Linked DNA regions of Homo sapiens: region 1 is linked to region 2. The links come from fine-mapping of genetic effects on gene expression. A gene starts in region 2. The other region holds a variant in brackets. All regions are shown on one strand. Distances are from middle to middle.

Region 1 (15,144 bases), 33 kb after region 2:
CTTCCGCCTCAGCCTTCTGAGTAGCTGGGACTACGAGTGCAAGCTCCCACACCTGGCTAATTTTTAAAGATTTTTTGTAGGGTTGGGGTCTTACTATATTGCCCAGGTTAGCTATTTTCATTTTTGAAAATTTTATTGGGTTTCTTTTCATTGCCATTAAGAATACCATCTACAGAGAAATTCAGTGAGAGGTAATAGACAAATAGCCTGGGGTGATCAATGGAAGCCTGACTAATGATTGGGTTACATACATGATTAATACCATGTTTTTATTTTGTAACAGCCATTGATTGACTTTGAAAATCTTTTATACTATTAAACTTTTTTTAAAAAGCCATTTCTCAGTTTTCTTTCTAATCTGTACTAGCTACAAACAATTTCTGTGACTTTCAGTCAGTTATTAAAAATATATTTTTGTGTCCTTTTTTCAGCAGCCCATGACCCATCGAGAAACTGCACCTGTTTCCCAGCCTGAAAACAAACCAGAAAGTAAGCCAGGCCCAGTTGGACCAGAACTCCCTCCTGGACACATCCCAATTCAAGTGATCCGCAAAGAGGTGGATTCTAAACCTGTTTCCCAGAAGCCCCCACCTCCCTCTGAGAAGGTAGAGGTGAAAGTTCCCCCTGCTCCAGTTCCTTGTCCTCCTCCCAGCCCTGGCCCTTCTGCTGTCCCCTCTTCCCCCAAGAGTGTGGCTACAGAAGAGAGGGCAGCCCCCAGCACTGCCCCTGCAGAAGCTACACCTCCAAAACCAGGAGAAGCCGAGGCTCCCCCAAAACATCCAGGAGTGCTGAAAGTGGAAGCCATCCTGGAGAAGGTACAGGGGCTGGAGCAGGCTGTAGACAACTTTGAAGGCAAGAAGACTGACAAAAAGTACCTGATGATCGAAGAGTATTTGACCAAAGAGCTGCTGGCCCTGGATTCAGTGGACCCCGAGGGACGAGCCGATGTGCGTCAGGCCAGGAGAGACGGTGTCAGGAAGGTTCAGACCATCTTGGAAAAACTTGAACAGAAAGCCATTGATGTCCCAGGTCAAGTCCAGGTCTATGAACTCCAGCCCAGCAACCTTGAAGCAGATCAGCCACTGCAGGCAATCATGGAGATGGGTGCCGTGGCAGCAGACAAGGGCAAGAAAAATGCTGGAAATGCAGAAGATCCCCACACAGAAACCCAGCAGCCAGAAGCCACAGCAGCAGCGACTTCAAACCCCAGCAGCATGACAGACACCCCTGGTAACCCAGCAGCACCGTAGCCTCTGCCCTGTAAAAATCAGACTCGGAACCGATGTGTGCTTTAGGGAATTTTAAGTTGCATGCATTTCAGAGACTTTAAGTCAGTTGGTTTTTATTAGCTGCTTGGTATGCAGTAACTTGGGTGGAGGCAAAACACTAATAAAAGGGCTAAAAAGGAAAATGATGCTTTTCTTCTATATTCTTACTCTGTACAAATAAAGAAGTTGCTTGTTGTTTGAGAAGTTTAACCCCGTTGCTTGTTGTTCTGCAGCCCTGTCTACTTGGGCACCCCCACCACCTGTTAGCTGTGGTTGTGCACTGTCTTTTGTAGCTCTGGACTGGAGGGGTAGATGGGGAGTCAATTACCCATCACATAAATATGAAACATTTATCAGAAATGTTGCCATTTTAATGAGATGATTTTCTTCATCTCATAATTAAAATACCTGACTTTAGAGAGAGTAAAATGTGCCAGGAGCCATAGGAATATCTGTATGTTGGATGACTTTAATGCTACATTTTAAAAAAAGAAAATAAAGTAATAATATAACTCAAAATGGTTTTTGTGGTTTCTAAATCTTTGAAAGCAGTGGCATCATGGAGATTGTCTGTCCCTGGTTTCAGTCAGAATAAATGACAGGTGCATTTAACAAGCCTGCTTTGGGTTTTGTGACGTCTCCAATAGCCCGGCTCAAGAGAGAATTGTCTTGGTCACCTTTCAGTCTCAGATTGCAACAGGAACCTGGGAAGACTCAGGGCTGTGAACTCCGGTAATGGGAACATGCCTGCTGCATCCGTTCGGACCGACCCAGCCAACAGCCAAGGTGCCAGTTAGGTAGCATGTCTGCCCACCTGTCCTCAGGCCTCACCAAGAAGCTGAGATTGTCCAAAAGTGCCCAGAGGGCCTGGCGCAATGGCTCACACCTGTTATCCCAGCACTTTGGGAGGCCAAGGCAGGAGGATCCCTTGAGGCCAGGAGTTTGAGACCAGCCTGGGCAACATAGCAAGACCCTGTCTCTACAAAAAACAAATCAGCCAGGTGGTGGCATGCGTCTTCAGTCCCAAGCTACCAGGGATGCTGAGACGTGAAGATAGTTTAAGTCCAAGAGATGAGGCTGCCGTGAGCTGTGATCCCGCCACTGCACTCCAACCTGGGCAACAGAGTTGAGACCCTGTCTCTAAAAATTAAAAAAGGAAGCGCACAGGGAAGCCAGCTCCCACTATTGCCCAAGGCTGGCCAAAGTGTTCCTTGGAGTCTAGGTCACTGGGGGTTGGAAATGTGCTCTGAGAATCTTGGGGTCATCTTTATTAACACCTTGTGAGTCACCAAACCAAACTGAGACCAGATTTATCTTCCTGGATTGGGTTCCTAGAAGCCTCTGGAGTTAGGGACGAGATACACTCAGGCCTGGGTAGAAGGAGATTCTTCTTGCTGTGCCAGTGGCTTTTTTTTTTTTTTTTTAACCTTGGGAGGGACCACAGCCCCACAGCATGGAGATGTGCTGGATTTGTTTATTTTTTATTTTTATTTTATTTATTTATTTAACTACTTGCCAAATAAAGTGAAAAGAGAAAGGCCTGAGACCTTGGAACTCTCAGTGAAGTGCTGACTTAAGAGCCCCCGAGCTGAATTTCTCATGACTGTATTGAGTTTAATACTGGTGCCTGACGATGCTGCACAAAAATACACCCTGGTGTGCTTGCCACTGTTAGCCTGCTGAGGAAGGCTGAAGTCATTCCCATGGGAATCTGCCAACATCATTCCTGGGTGAACTCATTTGGGGAGTACAAGCCGACATGCCACTGATTCTAGAAACTCGAACATGTAAATAGGAAAAAAAAAAAAAAATACTAGACTATTTTAAAAATGAACCAGGCTGGGTGCAGTGGCTCATTCCCGTAATCCCAGCACTTTGGGAGGCCGAGGCGGGTGGATTACTTGAGGTCAAGAGTTCGAGACCAGCCTGGCAAACATGGTGAAACCCCACCTCTACTAAAAATACAAAAATTAGCCGGGCGTGGTGGCATGCACCTATACTCCCAGCTACTTGGGAGGCTGAGGCACGAGAATTGTTTGTACCTGGGAGGCAGATGTTGCAATGAGCCGAGATCACGCCACTATACTGCAGCCTGAGCAACAGAGTGAGACTCGATCTCAAAAAAAAAAAAAAAAAGAACCAAAGATGATGTGACCACTTCTCTTTGGGACTCAATGGACCTCATACGACGTTAAGCCTCCTTGAGTGGTTACTGGATTAGGTTGATAGTATTTTTATCACTAAACATCATCAAATAAGTAGCTGTTTAATGTGGTTGGAATATTTTCAATCATCCAAATGAGACATGCTGTGGGCATCAGGACGGGAGTTATCTGGCCTGTGTTGGTGGCCCCTGGGCCTTGTGTGGGGAGCAGGGCATAGAGCTAGCTGTACGCTCTTGGTGACACAACTGTCTTGGCCCCTGTAGGCATTGGGGGGCTACAGCCACTGAGCATCTACC[G/A]AGTGTCAGGGCTATTTCCTGCGATGCCTGCTCAGGCCCTCTCTATCTGCTTTTCCAAATCTTCCGACTCCATTTTTTTTTTTTTTTTTTTTTTGAGATGGAGTCTTACTCTGTCGCCCAGGCTGGAGTGCAGTGATGCAATCTCAGCTCACTGAAACCTCTGCCTCCCGGGTTCAAGCGATTGTCCTGTCTCAGCCTCCCGAGCAGCCGGGATTATAGGTGTGCGTCACCCCGGCTAATTTTTGTATTTTTTAGTAGAGATGGTTTTTTGCCATGTTGGCCAGGCTAGGCTAGTCTTGAACTCCTGACCTCAAGTGATCTGCCCACCTCGGCCTCCCAAGTGCTGGGATTACAGCTGTGAGCCACCATGCCCAGCCTCCAGATCTTCCCACTCTGAGGCCCACCTTGGGTTGAAACTTTCCCCACCTGGACCACGCATTCCTTCTCAGACTCTCCCTTCCCAAAGCTCCTAGCACCCTTCTGTGCATTTGCCAAAACCCAGTTGTTTTCTCAACATCCTGAGTCATTTCCTCAGCAAGACAGAATCCCCGGAGGGGTGGCAGGTTCATTCCGACACTTCCTTCTTCCCACATTGTTGTCCAGACCTGGGCACAGAAGCACCCTGGATGGTCAGGGAGTGCTTAAAAGTCCCTTCCACTTAAGATGTTAGGATTCTAAGGCTAAATTGATGTTCCTGCACAAATAAATACCTCTTTAGGAGCTGTGAGTTGAGGGCCAACTCTTTCACCAACTTTCATAATTCCCAGATATGTAATTTATTTAAGTTAATTTATGTAAGTAATTTCCTCTCTCTGTGCCCTTTGCTCTCATCTGTGAAAGGAGGGCCTTGCCCAAGGGCCCTCTTGGTGATCTGGATGTTTCTGGCAGGTCTGCACTTGGCTACTGTTGTGGTCTCTGCCTTGGTATTTCTCCCTTAGCAGCCTAGCCAGGAAGCATAGCGTGGAGCTCCATTATGGGCTGTGCGGTCCTGCAAGCCCCTGTGTGAGTGTGGCTGGCCGGCCTGCCCACTGTCTGTAACATTATACAAATGTAATCGAATGCCAACGGACAGGATCCAGGGTTGCAGTTATTTTGGGATGTGCAGGAGCCTGTGGGAAAACGCTGGAACATGTCTTAGTCACTTGGGCAAATACCTTTCTTTCCCTGTTCCAGCGTGTTTTGAACTTTCAGGCAGCACAAAAAAAGCTCCAGCAGGCACACCCACCCTTGGTGATTCCGGTGCCCTTACACATCCTGTGGCTCTGAAAAGTGTGAGTGCAGAGGGCTGAGAGCGGGGCTGGGGAAGCCCTAGACACCCACCTATGGAAAAAATTGTAGCGCTTCCCTCAATACGTAATTCAAAATAAAAACAACAAAAGAAACGTAAGGAAGATGTGCAATTCCCACTTTATACTTTGTTGCTTCCTAAAAATTGTAAAATTTCCTCCACTCATGCGTATGTGCGCTTGGCCAGGTCCCTGCCTTCCTGGTACTCTGTTGTCCAGCACTACCCAGTAAGAACCACTGGAGACCAGGAAGAGCTCCATCAGTCCCCGCGGAGCATCTGAGCAGGTGAGGAGGTACAGGACCACAACAGAGGGCAGCAGAAGCCAGCAATGGTGCCATCCTGCGCTTGGTGGAAGGGATGAGGAGGCAGCCACAGGTCCTCTCGATGGACAGTGTTGCCCCCGCACCTCACACGTGGGCCCAGAGTTCCTGGTGCAACTAGAAGCCAGCCTGAAGGTGTGAAGGGAGTTGGAAAAAGCATTCCAGATGGAAAGGGTCTTTTTCTAAAACATTTTCTTGCCTGTCCTTGCCTTCTCTAGCCAGAGCTTTGCCCTAGGATCTGGCCGGCTGCATGGAGGCTGAGGAAGTTCTCCTCTAGTTTGAAGAGGGGAAATCCTTCTGCCAGCCCCTCACTCACTGTCTTCCACTTCATCTCTTTCTCTCTCCAATGGCTCTTTTCTTGTCCTTAGCCTACAGAAAACACAAACCAAAAAGAAATGCTTCCTCCTCACTTTACCCCCTGCCCCCACTTTTCTTTTTCTTTTTCTTTTTGAGACAGAGTATTGCTCTGTTGCCCAGGCTGGAGTGAAGTAGTGCAATTTTGGCTCACTGCAACCTCTGCTTCCGAAGTTCAAGCAGTTCTCCCACCTCAGCCTCCCGAGTAGCTGGAATTACAGACATGTGCCACACACCCAGCTAAATTAAAAAAAAAAAATCTATTTTTAGTAGAGAAGGGGTTTCACCATGTTGGCCAGGCTGGTCTTGAACTCCTGACCTCAAGTGATCCACCTGCTTTGGCTTCCCAAAGTGCTGGGATTACAGTCATGAGCCATCGTGCCCGGGTCACCACCCCCAGCTCACCACCCCCACTTTCTGATCACATGTCGTGGAAGAGCCAGCTAAGTCCCCTCACCTCCCACGTCCTGATCCACCTACAGCCATCCATTCCTGCACCCACCCCTACCGAAACCACTTCTGTGGGCACACTGTCACTGGTGTTATGCAATGTCTCCAGCTCTCCTCCCCAGCAGGCTCTGACTCACCCTCTTCCCTTGCCCTCTCTTCAACATCAAGGTCTCCAGGGTTCCTTCTTCAACCACCGCTCTTCCCACCATGTGAGGGTGTTTCAGGCGGCACCTTGGCTGGACCATAGCACCCAGCTATTTAACTCCAGCACTAGATGCTGCTGAGTAGATATTCTACAGACTTGGTTAACATCTACCATCGGTTGATTTCTCCCGGAGGAGAAGAAATTCTGCCTCAAGACTACAGCATCTGCCCTGGCTGAGTTTCTAGCCTGCTGCCCTGCCCTGACTTGCCCTGCCCTACAGCTTTCCAACTTGTCTGTCCCCACAATCATGTGAGCCAAATCCTTAAAAAAAAAAAAAATACACACATGGCTGGGTGCGGTGGCTCATGCCTGTAATCCCAGCACTTTGGGAGACTGGGGAGGGTGGATTGCTTGAGCCCAGGAGTTCAAGACAAGCTTGGGAAACATGGCAAAACCCCATCTCTATTTATAATAAAAATTAAACCCACACACACATACACATCCCCACCACACAAGCGCTGTATATGTGTATTTTGTTTCTCTGGCGAACCCTGACTGATGCATACTGTTCACACTCACCGGTTCTCCAGCTTCCTCCTCCCAGACCCCAGTCATCTCTGGGTCTGTTTCTGATACCCTCTTTTTTTCTTTCTTCTTTTTTTTTTTTTTAAAAAAGAGTAGAATTCATATTTTGTTGTCATCCAGATGGCAGTTGGGTTTATAGTCTCCATACTTTATACTTTATGTAAATAAAAATAATTACAAGTTTTAAATAGCCAATGGCTGGTTATGTTTTCAGAAACCATGATTAGACTAATTCATTAATGGTGGCTTCAAGCTTTTCCTTATTAGCTCCAGAAAATTCACCCACTTTTGTCCCTTCTTAAAGAACTGGAAAGGGCCAGGCACGGTGGCTCACACCTGTAATCCCAGCACTTTGGGAGGCTGAGGCGGGTGGATCACCTGAGGTCAGGAGTTCGACACCAGCCTGACCAACATGGAGAAACCCCGTCTCTACTAAAAATACAAAAATTAGCCAGGCCTGGTGGCGCATGCCTATAACCCCAGCTACTCGGGAGGCTGAGGCAGGAGAATCACTTGAACCTGCGAGATGGCGGTTGCTGTGAGCTGAGATTTTGCCATTGCACTCCAGCCTGGGGGACAAGAGGAAAAATCCATCTCAAAAACAAACAAACAAACAAACAACAAAAAAAAACTGGAAGGTTGGCATGCATTTGACTTCACATTCTGAAGCAACATCCTGACAGTCAGCCACATGTACTTCAAAGAATACCATGTTGGAATACTTTTCAGAGAGGGAATGAAAGAAAAGCTTGATCTTTTTGCAAGGCCCATACCACGTGGCTGAGAAGTCAACCATGACAAATTTATCACCTGCAGCCTCCAAGCCTTCCTGAAAAGCAACCTTGCTCTCAATTTGCTTCACCATCTTGGCTGCTAGGGTCTGAGGAGCAGCTGTAAGAACCGATGGAAACGGATCCAAAAGTGCCGGATCGAGCTTGGAGCTCTGGTACCCTCTTTCTCCTGAATGCCAAACTTATCTATGCCTACAGGGCACACAGAAAGGTGAGCATTCAGCTGATATCCTCTAGGAACCTGGAATTCAAATCCTGGGGTCCCCTCAGGGATCCCCCAGCACTGAGTCAGCTCTATCCCAGCACAAGCCTTCCACAAGGTGCGATCCCACAGTTCACAGAGGCCAGCCAGGTGGAGGATTGACAGAGCCAAGCTGTCACAAGTTGGATGTAGTCTGGGGGCAGAGCCAGGGACTGATGCTTGGCCCCACGCAGCAATTGTCATGTGGGGCATTGGTCCAGCGTTACAAGAGATTTCCAATTTTCCAGAAAGACCAGAAATTTGTTCCTGTGAAATCTCTCAATTTTTAATTTTTTTTTTTAAGATGGAATTTCACTCTTATTGCCCAGGTTGGAGTGCAGTGGCGCAATCTCTGCTCACAGCAACCTCCACCTCCCTGGTTCAAGTGATTCTCCCATCTTAACCTCCCAAGTAGCTGGGATTACAGGCACCCGACACCATGCCCGGCTAATGTTTGTAATTTTAGTAGAGACCAGGTTTCACCACGTTGCCCAGGCTGGTGTCGAACTCCTGACCTCAGATGATCTGCCTGCCTTGGCCTCCCAATGTGCCGGGATTGCAGGTGTGAGCCCCAGCCTGACAATGAAATTTTCCCATCAAGAGGTATTAAGGGAGGGACAGGCTTCATGAACCCTTTAAAAAAATGTTTATGTCACTTTTCACTCAGGGCAATGAGTGCTTACTTGCCCTACATTTTCATAACCAAAAGAGTACACACAAGACTCTTGTCTAAATGTGACTGTTCTCAGCCAACTCTGTCCACCCTCTGACACTGAAGTAGCTGACATAATTTAAAAATGTCTCCCAAAAGGTGCCCAGTTTCATTAACATTTTTTGGAGATAATTTTGACTAATTATTGGGTCACAAATTTCCTTCAGACAAAAAAAGACAAAAAGGCCCATTATCCCAAATATATACCTTTCAAACCCTTAGGATTTAAAAATACTAAAAACATGGTAACTTCTCCATGTTTGTTTTTTGTTCCTTATATTTCACTCTAACGATCAAGATACAAGAAAATACATAGAGGCGATCGATAGCTACCCTGATTTGATCCTATGCATTTATACATGTATCAAAATATCTTCAGGATAAGAACAACTATAATATATCAATAGAAATTTAAAAATTAAAGAAATTAACAAAAGAGTCTGTGCATGGTGGCTCACGCCGGTAATCTCAGCACTTTGGGAGGCCAAGGCAGGTGGATCACTTGAGGCCAGGAGTTTGAGACCAACCTGGACAACATGGCGAAACCCCGTCTCTACCAAAAATACAAAAAAAATTAGCCGGGCGTCATGGCGCATGCCTGTAATCCCGGCTACTTGGGGGGCTGAGGCTGGAGAATAGCTTGAACCCAGGAAGCAGAGGTTGCAGTGAGCCGAGATCACGCCACTGCACTGCAGCCTGGGCAACATAGACTCTGTCTAAAAAAAAAAAAAAGTAAGAAATTAACAAACAAAAGAAAATATATTGTTTAAAAATAAAATTACATTTCATAATTATTGCACGAACAGATTTAAGGATAAAGTTTCCAGTTAGAATGAAAGAGAGAAGGCATGTGTTTACAAACAAGCACGAGGCCCAAGAATAACTTACTGATTAGTATAAAATGTAAATGGTTGATTTTGCACAAATGCGATTTTTCTTTCTTTCTTTTTTATTTTTTTGTGGTCCACTGGAATGAGAAACTCAAAATCTTTCTTTAGAGCTAAGGCTTTTTTCTTCAATCGACTTCCTCAGGTTGAAAGGAGTTAAGGCTTTACCAAAGCAATTTGAAGGTTTGAAATCTCCAGGGAGATTGATTTATGAGTACAGTACACGTTAAGGCTACCTCTGACCTTGGCAGATTGTGGCTGTTAAATTAGGCCCTGGAGTCCTGAGACAGGGGCTCTTCATCTTAGCCTCCTAGCCTCCTTAGTATCTCACTGTGTGTCAGCAATTCCATGAATCCCATTGGATTCATGAAATTTCATTCATGGAATTGGATTCCTACTCATGGAATTTAATGTAATTCCATTGGATTCATGGAATTCCACTTCAGTTCTGTGATTCTCAGTAATATTTCTTTCTTTTTTTTTTTTTTTTTTTTTTTTGAGACAAGGTTCCTCTCTGTCACCCAGTCTGGAGTGCAGTGGCACGACTTAAGCTCACTGCAACCTCCGTTGGCCTCCCTGGCTCAAGCAATTCTCTTGCCTCAGCTTCCCCAGTAGTTGGGCACCACCATGCCCGGCTACTTTTCGCATTTTTCGGTAGAGAGGGGGGTTTCGCCATTTTGGCCAGGCCGGCCTCGAACTCCTGACCTCAGGTGATCCTCCCACCTCGGCCTCCCAAAGTGCTGGGATTACAGGCGTGAGCCACCGTGCCTGGCCAGTTCTGTGATTCTTTGGAGTGCCATGGCGCCATCTCGGCTCACTGCACCTCCGCCTCCCGGGTTCAAGCGATTCTCCTGCCTCAGCCTCCTGAGTAGCTGGTATACAGGTGTGTGCCACGACGTCAAGCTGATTTTTGTTATTTTACCTGAGACGGGGTTTCACCATATTGGCCAGGCTGGTCTCAAACTCCTGGCCTCAAGTGATCCACCTGCCTCGGCCTCCCAAAGTGCTGGGGCTACAGGTGTGAGCCACCACACCAGGCCTCAGGTCTGAGGTTCCTAATTCAGGACTCACCCGCACTAATTGAAACCTGAGGTGAGGGATTTCTCCTCGCTGACCAGTAGGGGGCGCGTCGTGACTGCGCCTTCTGCTTTCACTCCCCGCGCAGGGAAATCCTGTCCTGCTCTCTCAGGGAGCAGTTCCTGACGGTGGGCTCCATTTTATAATAGAATGACTCACCTGAAGAATCACTTCTTTCATTATTTCGTATTCCTCACAATACCAGTGACACACAAAGGCTTTATTTGAAAAACCAAGTAAAGGAAACGAGCACAGGATGTCTGTGCTGGTCTGGTCGGCGTTTATCTCAGCTGGTGAGAACGCAGCCACGCCTCTGTTCACACTGTCATTCCTCCAATAAATAAGATATCCCTGTTTTCTAAAGTCAGGGAGATTTATGAGTCAGAAGTAATCGGATCCACAATCTGATTAGAATTCTATCCTCATAACGGGAGCTGACCGCATCCGCATCCATTTGTGGTCCGGCCCAGTCACCACTTGGTTGGTGTTCTAGCACTATAAGCCAGACTGTGGGGTGGGGGAAGGTGAGTGCTCCCCGCACTTTAATGCCGGGCTTATTTTTCCCTAAGGACCAGGATCGAAATAATGTTAACAGGAAAAACATGCTTCCTCGTATGAGACTGCAGTATTTCACCTTGTATGAGAAAGGAAAAATGAAGGGTGAGACCTGCTTGTTTCTTACATAACTAGGGAGAAATCCATCCCCCCTCTCACCCCGTAGCTCTTCCTGGTGGCAGTAATGATCAGAACCGGGAGTACCCAACTTCTTTCATGCTTGGGGGACTAGAGCTGCCCCCTCCATGCAGAATGGGCAAAGTAAGGGCAGAGGAGATCCATTAGCATCACAATAGGCCTAAAGCCTGCATTTGAAAGCTTCAAGAAAAGACTGAGAGGCAATCTCTTGCTGTTTCCCCTAAAGGCAGATTGGCAGATCAGTCCTCCTATCCGGAGCAGCTAGAAAAGCTGGCAAAACAAACAAGACCTATCTGAAGGTGAGCCGCCAAGGGGGTGAGGATTTGAGGGTCAAGGTCCTGGAGAGAAGGGTTAGCAGAGCTTTGAATTTTGAGGCATTTGCCTATTTCATGAGGCAGAGAAGCTCCCAGCAGTCTCATGCTAAGGAAGGAAGAGCTCAAGTAGTCGCCGCCAGCTTTCAACTTCCAAAGGGCCTCACCCTTTGGAAGGAACAGGAATGAAAATAGAGAAACTCTCACAAAGACTGAAACCCAGCTTCCCATTGGCTTACCGTTTGACTGTGTTACAGGAAAGGGGTCTTGATCCAGACCACAAGAGAAGGTTCTTGGATCTGGAGCAAGAAGGAATTCAGGGTGAGTCCATAGAGTAAAGTGAAAGCAAGTTTATCAGGAAAGTAAAGGAATAAAAGAATGGCTACCCCATAGGCACAGCAGCCCCGAGGGCTGCCGGTTGCCCATTTTTATGGTTATCTCTTGATGATATGCTAAACAAAGGGTGGATTATTCATGCCTCCCCTTTTGAGACCATATAGGGTAACTTCCTGATGTTGTTATGGCATTTGTAAACTGTCATGGTGCAAGTGGAGTGTGGCAGTGATGACAACCAGAGGTCACTGTTGTCACTATCTTGGCTTTGGTGGGTTTTAGCCGGCTTCTTTACTGCAACCTGGTTTATTAGCAAGGTCTTTATGACCTGTATCTTCTGCTGACCTCCTATCTCATCCCATGACTTAGATTGCCTAACCTTCTAGGAATGCAGCCCAGCAGGTCTCAGCCTTATTTTACGCAGCCCCTACTCAAGATGGAGTTACTTTGGTTCAAACGCCTCTGATAATTGGATTAGGGCAAGCTTTCGCAACCTCAGTGCTATTGACACTGATAAATTGACATTATCAGTGGACCATCCTATGCAATGTTTAGTATTCCTGGCTTTTAACCACTGGATGCCAGTAGCACCTCTCCTTCCCCAAATTCTGACAACCAAACTTTCTCCAGACATTGCCAAATGTCCCCTGGTGGGGAAAATCACCTGTGGTTGAAAACCACTGGATTAAGGGTGCCTGCCCAGACCCCAACTGCCTTCCAGAAGCAAAAATAAATCTTACTATCATCTAGGGCCTCAAATTATATCTGTAATTTTTCATACATGATATGCAGCACTTAATAAAGAACAAAGCTTTAAAATACATAACAAAGTTGACAGAACTAAAAAGAGAAATAGACAAATCCACAATCATAGTGGGAGATGTTAAGACACATTTCTGAGAAAATGATGGACTAAGCAGAAAAAAAAAATCAACAAGGTTAGGGTAACAGGGTAAACTACGGAGAGAAGTATCTGGAGGAAAAGAGAAAGGTATCAGGTCTGGGTGCGTGAAAGAGGGGTTGGCAGGAAGGGGGGTATTGAGCGCAGATGGAGAAATGGAGAGAAAAGGAGGGTCTTTGTGGGCCCCCTCTTTCTGGAGGCTTAATTCTATAAGACCTTTTCCGCATGAACGGTACAAGGGAACTGTGTCGTTTCCTTTGTTCCTTCATCCAGACTATACTGGCTGCTCTGTGAAATCTATCTGTACCTCCAGTCTGCCGGAGGCATGTGAACCAGAGCAACTTCACCTTGAATAGGAGCTGGGTAAAATGAGACTGAAACCTACTGCACTGCATTCCCAGAAGGTTAGGCATTCTAAGTCACACGATGAGATAGGAGGTCAGCACAAGATACAGGTCACAAAGACCTTGCTAATAAAACAGCCTGCAGTAAAGAAGCTGGCCAAAACCCACCAAAACCAAGATGGCAATGAGAGTGACCTCACTGCTACACTCCCGCCAGCACCATGACAGTTTACCAATGCCATGGCAACATCAGAAAGTTACCCTATTTGGTCTCAAAAGGGGAGGCATGAAGAATCCACCCCTTGTTTAGCATATAATCAAGAAATAACCATAAAAATGAGCAACCAGCAGCCCTTGGGGCTGCTCTGTCTTTGCAGTAGCTATTTTTTTTTTTTTTTTTTTTGAGATGGAGTCTTGCTCTGTCACCCAGGCTATAGTGTAGTGGCATGATCTTGGCTCACTGCAACCTCCGCCCCCCTGGGGTTCAGGCAATTCTCCTGTTTCAGCCTTCTGAGTAGCTGGGTCTACAGGCGCGCGCCACCACGCCCTGCTAATTTTTGTACTTTTAGTAGAGACAGGGTTTCACCATACTGGTCAGGCTGGTCTCGAACTCCTGATCTCAGGTGATCTGCCCATCTCAGCTTCCCAGAGTGCTGGGATTACAGACGTGAGCCACCATGCCCGGCCTTTGTTTTCTTTTCTTTTCTTTCTTTTTTTTTTTTTTTTTGAGACAGAGTCTCACTCTGTCACACAGGCTGGAGTGCAGTAGCGCGATCTCAGTTCACTGCAACCTCTGCCTCCTGGGTTCAAGCGATTCTCCTGCCTCAGCCTCCTGAGTAGCTGGGATTACAGGCGTGCGCCACCACACATGGTTAATTTTTGTATTTTTAGTAGAGATGGGGTTTCACCATGTTGGTCAGGCTGGTCTCGAACTCCTGACCTCATGATTCTCCCGCCTTGGCCTCCCAAAGTGCTGGGATTACAGGCGCCTGGCCACAGTAGCCATTCTTATATTCTTTACTGTCTTAATATACTTGCTTTCACTTTACTCTGCAGACTCACCCTGAATTATTTCTTGCGTGAGATCCAAGAATACTCTCTTGGGGACCCCTTTCATTGTGGACTCCGTAGCAGCCAGTGGGGTTTGGGTTGGCAAAGACTAGTGAGGCGGCCAAAAGGGTGGTAAGCACATTCTGATCAACTGGGAGAGTGTCTCCAGCAGAGCTGCAGCCCTCCACCCCTGCCATGGAGGTGCTACCAGGTGTCACTAAACTTAGAGAGTCCTATGGTCTGAGGCAGTTTCAAAATTGAGAGACAGTAAGACTGAATATTTAATTCCTGTCTCATCTCTCCTCACTGTATTTTAGCAAGAAGTACTCCAGGATACAGAAGAGGAGCCTGTCCTACCTGGATTACACAGGTATATTGATACCTACTATACGGCAGACATTATTCTAATTGTTGCTAAGAACAGAGAGTAGGCCAGGCACGGTGGCTCTTGCCTGTAATCCCGGCACTTTGGGAGGGCAAGTCGGGAGGGTTGCTTGAGCCTAGGAGACCAACCTGGGAAACGTGGTGCGACCTTGTCAGTGATCCTGAGGTGAGAGGATCACTTGAGCCCAGGAGTTCGAGGCTGCAGCAGTGAGCCATGATTGTGCCACTGCACTCCACAGCCTGGGTCATAGAGTGAGACCCTGACTCAAAAAAAAAAAAAAAGAAAAGAAAAAGAAACACAGTGAGTTTAAGACTGGAATATAAAGATGGGTAAAGCCTATCCATTGTCTTCAGGCCTAATAGGGGTAAGGGGGTTAGGGCAGTGAATCGAGTAAACCAGCAGTTTGAATACGGTATGCTGGGGCAACTCAGGACAGAGCACAACAGGCTAAGAAGATGAAGAGTAATCGGGTGCTGGAGGGGAGAGAGAGAGAGAGACAGCAGATAAGGGGAATCTAGTTAAGAGTCTGAAACGGGAAGAGGATCTTC
Region 2 (15,144 bases):
CAGAGAGCACAGGGCGACTGGGCTCAAGCAGGCACAGACTTTAACTTTTAATAACAAACAGATGCAAAGTTAGTGCTGCAATCTGAAACTCTGCAGCGAAGCCATATTGATTTCCCCTTCCACCTCCAGCAGGGCGTATTTATAGAGCTTATCATAGAAGTCTGCACAGTATAACCAGGCCGGACGTCTTCTATCCCCCTCAGTGCTAATACCTACTGCCTGTAGCCCTTCTCTCCCAGTGCACTCGACCATCAGGACATTAGAGAGAGGCCATGGCTTCCATCCAGATGGCCCTGGCCTCCTTTTATCTAGGCTGCCCCTAGTGGAAGGGCCCCCTGAGAGGGCATGGCTAGTGAAGGTGTGCATGGCTGCACGTGCCGATCTCTCACAACATCCCAAAAGCAAAAAAAACGACCTGGGATGACCAGCATTTTGCACCGATCAGGGAGAACTGGCTGTTCTCCTATGCTGGCTCTTGTGTTCCAATAGAAATGGATTAAATCACCCAGACGCTGAAATCTTGTGGTTGACATTTTCATTTAAAACTCACCATTATAGCTGGGCTTGAGTCCTCTGTCTGTGACCTGTGCTATGAGTCAGTCAGGCCTGGGCACAGCATTAATAGGGCTGATTTATAATCTTCCACAGCAGCCAGCTACGGCTCCTGTTTCCTCAGCATTGAGAAAAAATCATTCGCACAAAACGTTGTTTCTCAATTCTAGCTTTTTACATTTTTTCCCTTGGTGACAAGTGGGACTAAGCCGTTGATTCACTTATGTTTGAGCTCCTGGTTAATAGCGTGGGATCCGGCGTCAATTGCCACAATTCAAATCCCGCCTCCACAAATCAAGAGCCTTGTGTTAACGTCTCCAAACCTTAGTTGCTTCATCTGTAAAAGGAGAATCATAATAACGCCTACCCAGAAGGCTGCTGAGAGGATTGTTCCAGGCTTGGTTCCTCAGGAAGCTGACTATGAGAGGTAGCAAGCTGGACTTTATTACGGAATTCTCCTAGGAGCAACACAGGAAGCAGGACTGTGCAGAGGGAGAAGCTGAGCTGTGATGCAGTCCCAAAGAAAGCAGCAGTCAACCCCAGAGGGCGCTCTGGAGCCGGGGTAGCCCGTTAGCCCTATCCTGAGTTGGACCGAAGGGGCTGGGCCTCTAAGCCCCTCAATAAATCAGTCACTAGATGCAGGTTGTCCCTGGAGGGACGTGTGACCTTGGGCGAGGCAGTTTTCTTCAGCTGCATCAGTCCCCATAGGTAGCTGAGATTCAGCTTCCTACAGCATCCCCAACAGTAGGTGGAATAAGTCCCTCATCCCTGAAAGTGGATCTGGGCAGCACGCATCACAGCTTCTCCCATAAAAATTAAATGCAGTAATCCACACAAAGCCGTTCACACAGTACCTGGCATGCAGTAAATGTTCAATAAATGGTAGCCATTACAACTATTGTTGCTTTAGTAACTACTGTCTGTCAGGCACCATGCTAGAGGCTGGGGACCCAGTGGTGATTGACAAGTCTGCTCCTGCCCTCATGAAACTCAATCCATGGACACATTAGACCATCAGACAAGCAATTGCAATTCAGTGCAATTGACAGGGTGGCATGGGATGTATAAGGGAGCATGTTATAAGGAAAATGTTTATTTAGAAACAGAGTGCTTGTTCCTTGGTACGGCAAGGAAAAATTAGCATTTAGACAAAAAATTTTTTTTAGCAAGGCAATTTTACTTTCTGCAGAAAGGGTGCTCCTTGCAGATGGAACAATAGCAAGAGCACACTTGAACAAAGAAGGGAAGTAATTTTTATCCTTTATGCAGTTTGTCTCTGCTACTGTGTCCTGTCTCTATTGGCTGGAGCGGGACCTCACAGTCTAAATTAAATCCGACTTGCTAATAATTTAAAACTTTCTTAAATAGGTAAAAGCAACAGAGAACAAAGGAAAAGAGGAAGTTGCTTGCGAAAGGACTTAGAAAAGTAATAATATTTTTAAATAAGGAAGGGGCACAGGCTGCAAGCTGGAATGTGCCTGTGAGCACGTCTAGTACAAATATCTTGGTTAAAGTACAAGGACATAGACTGTACTTATTCTTTTTTTTTTTTTTTGAGACGGCGTCTCGCTCTGTCTCCCAGGCTGGAGTGTGGAGTGCAGTGGTGTGATCTCAGCGCACTGCAAGCTCCGCCTCCCGGGTTCACGCCATTCTCCTGCCTCAGCCTCTCGAGTAGCTGGGACTACAGGCGACGGCCACCACGCCCAGCTAATTTTTTTTTTTTTTTGTATTTTTTTAGTAGAGACGGGGTTTCACTGTGTTAGCCAGGATGGTCTCGATCTTCTGACCTCATGATCCACCTGCCTCAGCCTCCCAAAGTGCTAGGATTACAGGTGTGAGCCACCGTGCCTGGCCAACTGTACTTATTCTTTTATATCTAACAGCTACATAGGACAAGGCTTAACAAAGAGTTACTAGCACAAAGCAAGGAGGCTTGAAGGAAGTTTAGTCTTTAAAAGAAACTATTATTTTTAACATTTATGATTTATTCTTTAACAAGAAGGGAAGCTTCGAAGAGGAAACTTTTTACTTTCTGCAGAGCACCTATTGGGTTGGTGCAAAAGTAATCACAGTTTTTGCCATAATAGAAGGGACACATGACTCAGACCAGGAGGATGAAGAAGAGAGATGCCACAGGTAATACCTGATGATGAAGGGGGGTCAGCCAGGCAAAGAGAGCGGGAGGCCATTGGGTGTTGGAGAGAAGGGCTCTCCAGGTGGAGGAAGCAGGGTGGGCAGAGGCAAGGGCAGGCTGTGTCAGTGCCTGCATGATATGGTGCAGCAAGGCCAGCCAGAGTGCACACCAGGCTGAGGGGAGGAAGGTCTTGTGTACACCAAGCCAAGGAGTGTGGAGTCAACAGAGAGGCATTAAAGAATTCTAGGCAGAGAAGGGGCAAGGCCTGTTTTGTGCTTGAAAGATTGCTCTGGCTACCATGTGGGCAACGAATTGGAGATGAACAAGATTAGAGGCTGGTTTACGTGACCAACTGCTTACGCACACACACAGACACACACACATACACACATACACACACACACACACAAAGATTAGAGTCTGGGAGATCCATCAGGAGGCCGTGCCAAGATCCAGATGACAGGCAAAGGTAACCTGGACGGGTTGGTGGCACTAAAGACAGACAGGAGTTCACAATCAAGGAATATCTAGGAAGTGGAATCCACAGATTTAAGGATAATTAAATGGGCCAGGCACGGTGGCTCACATCTGTAATCTCAGCATTTTGGGAGGCCAAGGCAGGAGGATCACCTGAGGTCAAGAGTTCAAGACCAGCCTGGCCAACATGGTGAAACCCTGTCTCTACTAAAAATACAAAAATTAGCTGGGCATGGTGGCGGGTGCCTATAATCCCAGCTACTCGGTAGGCTGAGGCAGGAGAATCGCCTGAGCCAGGGAGGCGGAAGTTGCAGTGAGCCGAGATCACGCCACTGCACTCCAGCCTGGGTGACAGAGCAAGTCTCAAAAAAAAAGGATAATTAAATGGTGAGGGGCAAAAGAAATTTAGGGTTATGCTTAAGCTTCTGATCTGGGCAGATGAACTCCAGGAGGCCTAAAGAGGGAGTGTCTGAGGGCCTGGAGAAAAGAAAAAGCCACCGAGGACAGACATGATGCTCAGTATTCAACGTGGCTCAAAGCAGCTTCTTCCAGCCAGCTCTCCAAGACTTGTGTCTCTGTTTTAGACAAACCCTGCGGAAGTCCCTAGCGGAGGATAACTCTTCTGCGGTGAGCAGGTCTATGCACACCTACCCTCAAAGGCTGAGGAAACTGAGAAGCTGAAGAAAGAGGTGGACAAATCCAGTTTCTCAGAGAGAAACACTTAATAGGGACTTACAAACACAAGCCATGTCCTGGATGGCTGCAAGACAAGATGGCGGGTCCCTGCACTGTTACCCTGAAGTCCCAGGGCTTGTATACCACAGGGAATTCGCCACAGGCAGGATTTATAGTAAGTATGTGTTTACAGTAACACCAACGTTATTTTGACCGAAGGGTAAGTATGTGAAAATAGAAATCTTAGAGGCATTCCTGGAACGGGTTCATCAGAAACGAACATGGCAGATGAGCATCCAGGATGGAGCTGCTTTAGCCTCCAGAGCAACTGTCAGAAGCAGCTATGTTAATCCCAGAGTAACCTGCTTCCTCCCTGCTGCTTCTTTCAGGGGAAAAATGGCCAACACCACTTTCAGTATTTGTTTGTTTATTGAGACAGAGTCTTCCTCTGTTGCGCAGGCTGAAGTGCAGTGGCGTGATCTCAGCTCACTGCAAACTCCGCTCCCCGGGTTCCAGCGATTCTCCTGCCTCAGCCTCCCAAGTACCTGGGATTACAGGCACCCACCATCATGCCCGACTAATTTTTGTATTTTTAGTAGAGACGGGGTTTCACTATGTTGGCCAGGCTGGTCTCAAACTCCTGACCTCAAGTGATCCCCCCCACCTCTGCCTCCCAAAGTGCTGGGATTACAGGCATGAACCACCACACCCAGCCTCTGTGTTTATTTAAACTGTAGTTACTTAAACTGTAGTGGAAAGCAAATTGAGCAAGGAAGAAGATAGAAATAAAATTTCACTCTGGATTCAATCTTCGATAAACATCAACATTTATTGAATATGGACTCTGGGTTCAGGGCTGCAGACATAAGGAAGCATAAGGCAGACACTGACTAGTGAATTTGGGGGTCTAGTTCCTTCAACAGTAATATTTCCTATGGGAAACTAGTGCACTGACATTCGGGTTTATACACCTGTCTCTAACATGTTTGGTGACCTGCATCAGTCCCTGGGGCCTGATCATCACTGGAGTTACTGGACTCCAAAGCGGATAAGCATACTTTTACAAGTGAGAATCATTCCATTGGAAATGATAGGCAGGCCTCTCTGGCATTTTCTCCAGAAGGAGTAAGCTGAGGGCAGGAAGGGGCAGAGGTATTGACTGGGGTTCGAGGATATTCTCTGATTCCGAATTGAAAACTAGGCCCAATATTAGTTCAAAGCGTTTCTGGGGAAGGGAATGAGTCAGTATGTCTAAAGATCTAAAATGTCACCTCCCAAACATTCTCTCTTTCTGGAACACAGTCTCTCTTTCCCAGGGGAATTGGGGTGCTCATTGACGTTTGTTAAATAAAAGTTATAAGAGGTCACTGTTTTGGACTAAGCTCCTGCATTTGGCCTTAACAAACCCGACGAAAAATCAGAAAGGAGTCACTCATGCTAAAGTTCCACATCACCAAACCAAAACCAAGTTGTTATCTGACTTTCTGAGAAATCAGGAGAGGTGATAGTCTAATTTCCCAAACAGGCTACTTTCGAATGAGGGGTGAGGGTTGGGGAGTGACAGGAGGTGGCTGGGGGCACCAACTCCGTGCAGTCGAAAATCCCTGCAAAGCTGGGCGAGGTGGCTCATGCTTGTAATCCCAGCACTTTGGGAGACGGAGACGAGTGGATCACTTGAGACCAGGAGTTTGAGACCAGCCTGGCCAACATGGCAAAACCCTGTCTCTACTAAAAATACAAAAATTAGCCAGGCATGGTGGTGCACACCTGTAATCCCAGCTACTCAAGAGGCTGAGGCAGGACAATCGCTTGAACCCAGGAGGCAGAGGTTACAGTGAGCTGAGATTGCCCCACTGCACTCCAGTCTGGGAGAGAGAGCAAGAACCTGTCTCAAAAAAATAAATAAATAAAATAAATAAAATAAGAAAAGAAAGGAAAAAAGAAAATCCCTGCATACTTTTTTGTTTGTTTGTTTTTGAACTGGAGTCTGGCTCTGTCGCCCAGGCTGGAGTGCAGTGGCATGATCTTGGCTCACTGCAACCTCCGCCTCCTGGGTTCAAGCAGTTCTGCCTCGGCCTCCCGAGTAGCTGGATTACAGGCATGTGCCACACGTCCAGCTAATTTTTGTATTTTTAGTAGAGTTGGGGTTTCACCATGTTGGCCAGGCTGGTCTCAAATTTCTGATCTCAAGTGATCCGCCGCTTGGCCTCCCAAAGTGCTGGGATTACAGGCGTGAGCCACCATGCCCCGCCCCTGCATACTTTGAATCTCCCAAAACTACCAATAGCCTACTCTTGACGGAAAGCCTTGCCAATAACATGAACAGTCAATTAACACATATGTTGTATATGTATTATATGTATTCGTGCAATAAAGTAAGCTAGAGAAAAGAACATGTTAAGAAAATCATAAGGAAGAGATTTTACATTTACATAAGGAAGAGTAGTACACTTACTACTCATTTAGTGGACGTGATCATCATAAACGTCATCATCCTCATTATCTTCACGTGGAGGCTGAGGAGGGGAAGGAAGAGGAAGGGTTGATTCTCCTGTCAAGGGGTGGCAGAGACAGAAGAGGTGGAGGAGGTGGAAGGGGAGACTGGAGAGGCAAGCACATCGGTGTAACTTTTATTGAAAAAAAATCCATGTACAAGTGGACCTGCTCAATTCAAACCCATGTTAAGGGTCAACTGTACAGTAATCTGAAGTATGTAACCTGATGTTACATTTCTCTCAATCATTTCTCTCTTTCTTTCTCTCTCTTTCTTTTAAAGAGATAGGGTCTTGCTCTGTCGCTTAGGTTGGCATGAAGAGCAAAATCATAGCTCATGGCAGCTTCAAACTCCTGGGCTCAAATGAGCCTCCCACCTCAGCCTCCTGAGTAGCTGGGACTACAGGCATAAGCCACTGCACCTGGCTTATTTTTTGTTTATGCAGAGATGGGGGTCTTACTGTGTTGTCCAGGCTGGTCTCAAACTCCTGGACTCAAGAGGTCCTCCAGTCTTGACTTTCCAAAGTGCTGGCATTATAGGCATGAGCCATGGTGGCAAGCCCTCATCAGTTATTTTTCTATGATTCTGTCTCTCTGTCCCCTCCTTACAAGGAAAGTAATTTTGAAACAACCAATCCAGTCTTGGTTCTTTGTTTCTGCTTTCTTCAGCCCTTCTCTGTCTATAAAACCAACCTCTTCTGCTCAGCTCATGGGAGCACTTATTCTAATTTAATGGAGATGTTGCCCAATTTCTAGAATCACAAATAAGATCTTTAACAATAAAAGTTAAAAAATGAAAATCAACAACAACAACAACAAAAAAGATCTTTAAATGTGTTGTAATTTTCTCCTTTGACAGGTTACAAGTGCAATTGAATAAACCAAACAAAAAATGTCATGGTTATTCGGTCTTTACTTCCCAAATCAGGGTCAAGATATAAGATAGCAAGAACCAATCTCTACCATAAAAAAGATCCAGACCCAAGAAAATGTGATTTATCTTTAAAGCTGCAACGAAACTTTCTTTTTAGTCTAGGAGACTAAAAGCCATCAGTTGATACAATCTCTTTTTTTCTTGAAGTTTCCAAAGGAAGGCAGGTGAGTTTGCACTGACTTCCATTTTCTCCCTGGCTTCCTTCCGGTGTCAGATGAGAGTCCCCGCGCTCCTCCCGGACAGCCCTCAGGGTCCTCGGCTATCATATATGGGGGAGGGGGTGGAGGTGGGCGAGATGGTTTTGTTTGTACAGGAAGGACGGGCGGCAGGCACGGGGAGCACGGGCTCCGGCCCCGGGAACACTCACTCGGCGCAAAGGAGAGGGAGAGAGCGACTATGAAAGCCGAAACCCGCCCGGGGCGCACGGAGGACGGCCCCAGTCCAGCTCGTCCGGCTTCCCACCCGCAGGCGGACCCCGAAGCCGCGCCCGCGCCCGCCCGCGGCGACTCCGGCCCGGGCACGCGCACGAGTCGGAAGGGGGAGGGGCGGGAGGAGGTGGGGGAGGGGCGAGCGGGCCGAGGCCCCGCCCCCGCTCCTCTGCCCCGCCCGCCGCGATTATAGCCGATGACTCAGGGCGGAGCTCCGCATCCAACCCCGGGCCGCGGCCAACTTCTCTGGACTGGACCAGAAGTTTCTAGCCGGCCAGTTGCTACCTCCCTTTATCTCCTCCTTCCCCTCTGGCAGCGAGGAGGCTATTTCCAGACACTTCCACCCCTCTCTGGCCACGTCACCCCCGCCTTTAATTCATAAAGGTGCCCGGCGCCGGCTTCCCGGACACGTCGGCGGCGGAGAGGGGCCCACGGCGGCGGCCCGGCCAGAGACTCGGCGCCCGGAGCCAGCGCCCCGCACCCGCGCCCCAGCGGGCAGACCCCAACCCAGCATGAGCGCCGCCACCCACTCGCCCATGATGCAGGTGGCGTCCGGCAACGGTGACCGCGACCCTTTGCCCCCCGGATGGGAGATCAAGATCGACCCGCAGACCGGCTGGCCCTTCTTCGTGGACCACAACAGCCGCACCACTACGTGGAACGACCCGCGCGTGCCCTCTGAGGGCCCCAAGGTGAGCCGGGCCCGCGGCCCGCCCTGGTCGGTGGCGCCACCTCGACGGCAGGCGGCGGGGAGTGGGCTGGGCCGGGGGGACGCGAGGCGGCGGGGCCCGGGGGTCGGCGAAGGCCCCTCGCGGGCGGACACCGGCTCCGCGCCCCGCCACACACTCCCGCTGCGCCCGGACGAGTCCCCGCTCCGGACCCGCCCTTGACAGGCGTCGGGGCGAAAGGAGGCCCCGGGATTCGGTGGCCCGGGAAGCGACCCCGCAGTGGCTCCGGTGCCGTCCACGGCTCGACTCCAGGGCGGAAGGCCGGGTGTCCAGCGCTGGCCTCGCGCTCTAGGGCTGGGAGAGGGGCGGCCGGCCTGGTCAGCTCCGGAGGCCCCGGCCCACCGTGGCCCCTGCTGCCCGCTCGGCCTCCGGGCCCGGGACCCGCGGCGCACCCTGCTGACCGCGGACTCGAGGGGGACACTCGCAAGCTTGGATGGTGGTTTTGGGGGGAATTTTACCGCTCAAGTTCTCCAACTTGGTTGAGGGGTATCTTGGCTACTGTCCCATGTTAGGCACCCAATGACTCTGGAGGCTGGTGTCAAAACATTCATATATATATGTGTGTGTGTGTATTTTAAATTAAAATTGTATTATTGTTTGAAAGTGCTTTCAATATGAACGTATCCTAGTATGATTTGTAAAATAAAAAACAGGGTGTGCTTCTCCCCAGCAGTTTCTAGAGATCTAGACTAGAGATCTGAGACTGTCTTACAGTTGGCCATTGCCTTACCACATTGCCTCACACTGGAGAGAAAGAGAATGATACGTGTATATTTATAATGGCATTCGCTTCCTGCCTTGTTATGGTATTAAAATACTTAGGATTTGTTACCAGTACACAAATAACTGACTAATGATACTCTTGTGAATACAGCAGAAGTATGTCTCATTTACATACATGCAAGGATATATACTTCTTAATCCCCAAGAGCATGAAATTTGAAAATGTAAATTTGGAATGAGTGTGTTAATTTTCAAAAATCAGAGTTAGTTATACTATTCTTTCAATTTTTTATAAATTTGAGCTTTCAGGATAAAAAGTTTTTAAAATAAATATGTTATACTTAAAGCTGAATTGTTAACGCCGTCTGGGCAAGATAAAAGCAGCAAAGAGCTGGTAAATTATTTTGAAGATTTAAAAACTCACCAAATTAAAACTGCTGTGTAACCCATTGTTTTAGAAGAAAGACCTGTATTATTTCCCTTCATCTTTATGCACTTTTTGTTTTAACAATATTGATAAAACTCCGGTGCCCAGCAGTGAGACCGTGTACAGGCAGCAGTTTACATTTACGAGAGATTAGTTGTATATTTATTCTTGAAAATTAGTACAAGAGGCTGTAATTAGCTGGGATGGGCACAGTTACATATACCTTTTTGTGTGTCTGTTCCACCCATTTTTGGGTGAAACTGACACTCATTTCAAACCACCTTTCTTAGGAGTCTGCGTGGATGTACATGATCTTTAGTGTGGTTTACAACTATTATTTTGAAGCCTTCTTCCTGTAGACATAGGGATAGTGGTATCTGTTGGCAGCCTTTGTTGTGAGTGAAGATCAAGTTTGAACATAAACATTCCCAGCACTTTGTTCTCAGCATGAAACTTACCCAGCAAGTTGAGATCTTCCTGTACCCACCTGGTGCATGGGTTAGGCTGTGATTTCATAAACCTTATTAAAAGAAAAAAAGCAGGTTTAGTTACCATTATTCTTGTCAGCAAATACAAAGAACTACTAAATCAGAAGTCTGATGCTGGGAAGATTTATTTGAAAATTTCACGGTCAAAATTTTAAAGTTGAAATGTCCTTGAAGATCTCTTATGTTAGGCTTCTTTATTTTCTGAAACCCAGAGAGTTCAGGTGTGACTTTGAAGGTCATCCAGCTAGTACCAACAACAGGGAGAGAACTAGTGTCAGGAAAGTCCTAATAAGAGGCAGTGTGTCTCTTCAGAAGTTGGAAGTGAGTGTTTTGGGAAACTGAGGCATGCAGGCTAGAATACTTGATTATTTTTGTGCCCTCCTGGCCACCAAGTTATTGGGTCACTGACCTCTGTGCTGAGGTTGCTTGGATTTTGATGATGGGACTGATGAACTCAAGAAAAGAGTTCCCTTTACCAAGTGAATGACTTGAGACTTGTCAGCATGGCACCAAAACTTAAGGAGAAAACTAACATTCAGCCCATGAGCTGTTTGTGCTTCATTGCTTTCAATCCTGTGCTTTGACACACACAATATCAGGTTGCACTTGTGTGAGTTACACCTTACTGGAGACTAAATGTAGTGGAAAATCCTTGAATATCATTTTGTATTTGAAATTGGCTTCTCAATGCATAATGAGAAAAAGGCCCTTGCAGAAAACAAAGGGCGATTTTGGAGGAGCTGAGCTGAGGCCCGTCTGAGCATCATCATCTTCAAGAGGAAATGCTGTCAATCAGTAAAAAGCTGTTCATTGAGCATGAGGAGCTCAAGAGACGACCTCTCTTTTGGGGGAGGACTCAGCTTCAGGATGTTTAAAATTTAATCACGTTAGTAAGAAAATGGAAAGAAAAGACTAGACCTTTGTATTTTATTTCGTCTTCTACTGCCGTCTTGCAGTTGATCTTCCGCCTTCTCCTGAAGTAGTTAGGACAACTCCCTGTTTTCACAGAGGGGCAGAGCGAAAGCAAGTATCTTCTGTCATTGCTGAAGCAGGACGGCTCCCGGCAAAGATGCTGGGCTTCATCCAGCCCCATTCTAAGCAGCTGGGCCTCCCCACCTGCAGTCTTCCTGGATTTTGATTTTCTGCACACTTGGGCTTCCCACTAATTTGGCAAGTTCATACCAGTCCAGGCCCTTTCCTGGCAGAGGATGGCATTCAGTGCTGGTGCAGCCACTCCTCCAGGCTCCTCCCTGAATAAACAGAGGCCGGATGTTCTGGAGTGCTGTTCCCGCCAGGCCTCCTTGGGATGAGAGGGAGACCTTCCTCCCTCATGGAGCAGGGCCGCTCTAGCTCCATGGATCTTGGGGGTTACCAGTCTGGCACTCTCCAGGGAGTCCTGTTAAGAACACAGATTGTGGCTGTGTCTCATCGCCTCCCTGCCCCAACCCCATGTTCAAATCTGAATTGCTCAGTGTAGGGCCCAGAAAACTATTAAGTCCAGAAAGCTTTTTTGGTGGTTCTGATTCTGCTGCACTGGCAGTGGGAGCCACGGATGGCCAGTGATCCCATTTTGGGGAGGAGGAGCTGCGGCTTAGTGCCTCCTGAACATCTATCCTGCAGAGCATTTTCCCAAGCCTCCATTTTCCTTCTTGGGGAAACTCCCCAGGTACGCGGGCTTCTGGAGGTGTGAATATGGGGATGACATGGGAAGCGAGCCGAGACAGCACCTTGCAAAGTCTGGCAGGGTGGCTGGCAGTGCGAGAGTGGGGAGGTGGTCCAGAGATCTTCCTGGACCCCAGGAAGAAGCAAGCCAGAGCCTTTTCTTTTTGTCTTGCCCATCTGGCAGAATCTCACCATAATCATTTAACAGATTATACTCAGGCACTGTGACAGGGAGATAGAAACATCCTTTCAGATAACACTGGAAATGTTTCGAGTTATGATTGAAGTAGAGAGACCCATTTATTTTGCTTAAGGTTCAGCAGAGCCTCCTGAATTTTCTTAAAGATGAGATCGTTTTGCTCTTTCCAGATCTATTGCAAGCTGTTATGCCTCTTAGCAGAGGCGGAGCACAATCAGGAAATGAGTGGCCGTTCTCTCCTTCGTATTTCCAGCAAGTTGCAGTTGTGGCTGAGCAAGTTCCTGTGCGACTGCATGAAAGTGATTTGTTGGGGGGCAGATGAACAGCATGGCCAGATGCCTTGGAGCCCAGCTCATCCAGGACTTTCATTTTCCCCTCTGAAGAACAGCCTGTGTTGTTCACATGAGAACCGACTGCACCTCCGAGAACATCATTTGTCCCGTTTTGTAGGGTAGATTTGCCCTTTATGAGGGTGGAGCCTGTACACAGGACCTGCGGCAGCGTTTGACGTTGGCCAGGGCTGGGAAGGCTTAACTGTTGGATGCTATCAGGGCTGCTTGTGAGTCAGAAAGCTTCATACCACCCATGAGGCTTGCTTAGTGCTGTCCTCGTTTCTGGAATGACACACAGTCACCTTATATAAACCACTCTACATGTTTATTACTTTCTATTGACATTTAAAAATGATGTTCTGATGTTTATCATCCAAAGTAGAAAACCATTCATCATCCAGACCTACTCTTTCTCCTTTAAGTTTTGCTGTTTTAATATTGCTCTTAAATGTTTAAGAGAGCTTACAGAAGAAACTGAAGACAAAGGCCTTGCTTATTAGGATCTTTGAGACCCTCTGGCACTGGCGAACACGAGTGAACCCTGTGTCACACTTGACCGTGTTATTCTCCAGCCCCTCCTGGGTTCCCTTTTGTTGTGAGTCAAGTAGACACCTCTGATCTGCTTCTGCCTCAGAGCATAGACTCAGCTGGCCTTCTTTTTTTTTTTTTTTTTTTTGAGACGGAGTCGCACTTTGTCTCCCAGGCTGGGGTGCCGTAGTGCGATCTTGGCTCACTGCAACCTCCGTCTCCTGGGTTCAAGCGATTCTCCTGCCTCAGCCTCCCAAGTAGCTAGGATTATAGGTGAGCGCCACCATGCCCATCAGCCGGCCGTCTGAGGCAGGCTCCAGAGCCCCTTGTTTTGCAGGTGCAGGATTCATCTGTATGCATCATGTGGCACATGTGATACCATGTGAGGTATCTGGTGTTACTAAGTCGTCACGTATTTCGATGAAGGTATCTTTGGGACCTTGGCAGCCTTTTAGGAAGCCAGGCAGCTTGCAAAAGCTTAGGAAGAATTTGGGGGGAGAGGAATGAATGTAGTATTTTTCTGTCTGTCAACACACACACATATATATATATATGTGCCAGATATGAGTGGGTGCTTTTGGTAACCTTATCTCTAAATCCTCACCAGCTCTTTGAACTAGAAACTATGAAGTGTCTTACACATGGGACAGCAGATTTGGAGAGGCAGTGTGCCTGGCCTGTGATAAACAGAAAGACTTCTGTGGCTTTACCCCCATCTGAGTTCCTGAAGGGGTGACAGACAGACTTGCCTTTAGCGGGCCTGGCTGCTTTATACTCCCCAGGCACGGCTGCTTTATACTCCCCAGGCACAGCTTGAGGTGATAAACAGCCCTGAGTCCATCTTTGTATAGTTAATCAGAAATGTTGGCCTGTTTCTTGAACCTGGGTCTGGATTTAGGAGATGGGCCCGACTCTTTACTCACTCCTTTACCCCATCTGAAATTCACTGAGTGCCCACAGTGTGCGAGTCACAGTGTTAAATGCCATATAGAGGACAAGTCTGCCCACTTTGAGACTGTTCTCCACAAAGCATGTCCTGCCTCTCCCTGGTCCGAAGCAGGCTGTCTCTCTTCTGGAACCCATATTATTTTAATTTGAATCTTTTTGCTTAAGCTCTGCACTTTTCTGCTTTGTCTTGGGGTCACACCCCTGTTAGGAGTTCTGGGGCAGAGTCTGTGTGCTTCATCGCTGCCTCTTGATGCCTGGCAGGGTCCACAGGCTCAGAAAAGATGGAACGAGTGACTGTGGAGAAGGGTAGAACATGGGCCTGCCCAGAGCGCGAAGGCAGATACAGAAGAGCTGCCCGTGAAGGATGCAGGTGTGTCCCGGGAAGCCTTCCATTGGTTCCTAAGAACTGCAGAGTTGTCCTGGGCTCCTAAAGGTCCCCAGAGGCCTGCTCCTTTTTGTCACTTTGTGAATGGCCTTCTCTGCACAAAGGACTTCAGTATTGATTCCCTAAGTTCATCCTTACAGGTCTGGAGAAGCTCTTTTTTGTTTCTCCCAATGACACAGCATCTTACAGCAGGGCTGGAGAGGCTGGGAGCTGGCAGCAGCCAGACCCTACTTCCATAGCTGTGCAGAGAGCAGCCCCTGGCACTGTGAAAAGAGTCTCTTAAAAATTTTTTTTCGTGTGGCTGGCAGCAAGATCAGACACCGTATACGTGAAGGTTCTTATTCACTGTCAATTCAGAAAAGCCTAGAATCGCAGAGTGCCAGCTCTGTGCGTCAGGAGCCTGTAAACAGCTCAGCTGTCCAAGAGCTCCCAGCACAGAGCTGTGCCCCAGTGAACTGGGGAGACTTTTTACGGAAAATTCCTTAGCATTCAATTGGAGAACAAACGTTTGCTGTTTTAAAGTATCTTCCTCAGTGTTTATTAAAGTAGAATTATATATTTTTTTCAGTTATTTAAAAAATTCTTCCTTGACATTGAATGAATGAATAAATGAATGGATGGTTTAAAAATTCATACAGTGGGAGGATGGGAAGGCCCCTTCATGTGCAGAAGAAAAGCCAGCCCCTTCGCTGGCCCACCCTTTCAGGGTCAGTTCAGACCCCCAGCATCCCAGCGGGGTTAGCACTCCTTCCTGGGTTGGACGGTGTCTTCCCCGGTTCTGACAGCGCTCCATGCCGGGCGTCCCTGCAGTCTTGGGGCTGTGGTGACTCAGAATTAAGCTGAGTGCTCTCACTCTCGTGTACCCTGCCTGGCTGGCCTGATGACTCAGCATGGAGCGCTGGCTCCCTGACCCAGAGCACACTTGAACTGAATGTTCCAGGTCTGAGCCTCAGCCGAGCGTGGCTGGGCGAAATGGAAGCCTTTCTCTCCTGCTGCCTCTCCTGCTGCATTTTACCCCGGGAGATGAAGGT

Which allele goes with the higher level. Alleles are on the strand shown, and positions count from the first base shown. SD is a standard deviation of normalised expression in the study named.
As copies of G replace A in region 1, the expression in sigmoid colon of the gene that starts at base 7,910 in region 2 goes up (small effect, 0.19 SD a copy in GTEx).

Evidence for each region.
Region 1: its variant is fine-mapped to the expression of BAG3 in sigmoid colon (GTEx, PIP 0.95).

Annotation. Positions count from the first base shown.
Region 1 is chr10:119,676,033-119,691,176 of GRCh38, forward strand. BAG3 (BAG cochaperone 3) reads left to right here. Exons shown (of 4, transcript NM_004281.4): 4 at 432-1,787. The coding sequence ends at 1,250. It overlaps LOC124902513 (a long non-coding RNA gene), which reads right to left and starts at 6,639. Exons shown (of 2, transcript XR_007062312.1): 1 at 6,279-6,639; 2 at 5,118-5,706. It also overlaps the pseudogene TXNP1. RefSeq lists a silencer at 7,675-7,854 and enhancers at 10,604-11,540, 11,541-12,477. The variant G/A (reference allele first, on the strand shown) is at 3,730.
Region 2 is chr10:119,643,471-119,658,614 of GRCh38, forward strand. It overlaps BAG3 (BAG cochaperone 3), which reads left to right and starts at 7,910. Exons shown (of 4, transcript NM_004281.4): 1 at 7,910-8,385. The coding sequence starts at 8,206. RefSeq lists enhancers at 7,048-8,002, 7,383-7,462 and a silencer at 7,663-7,962.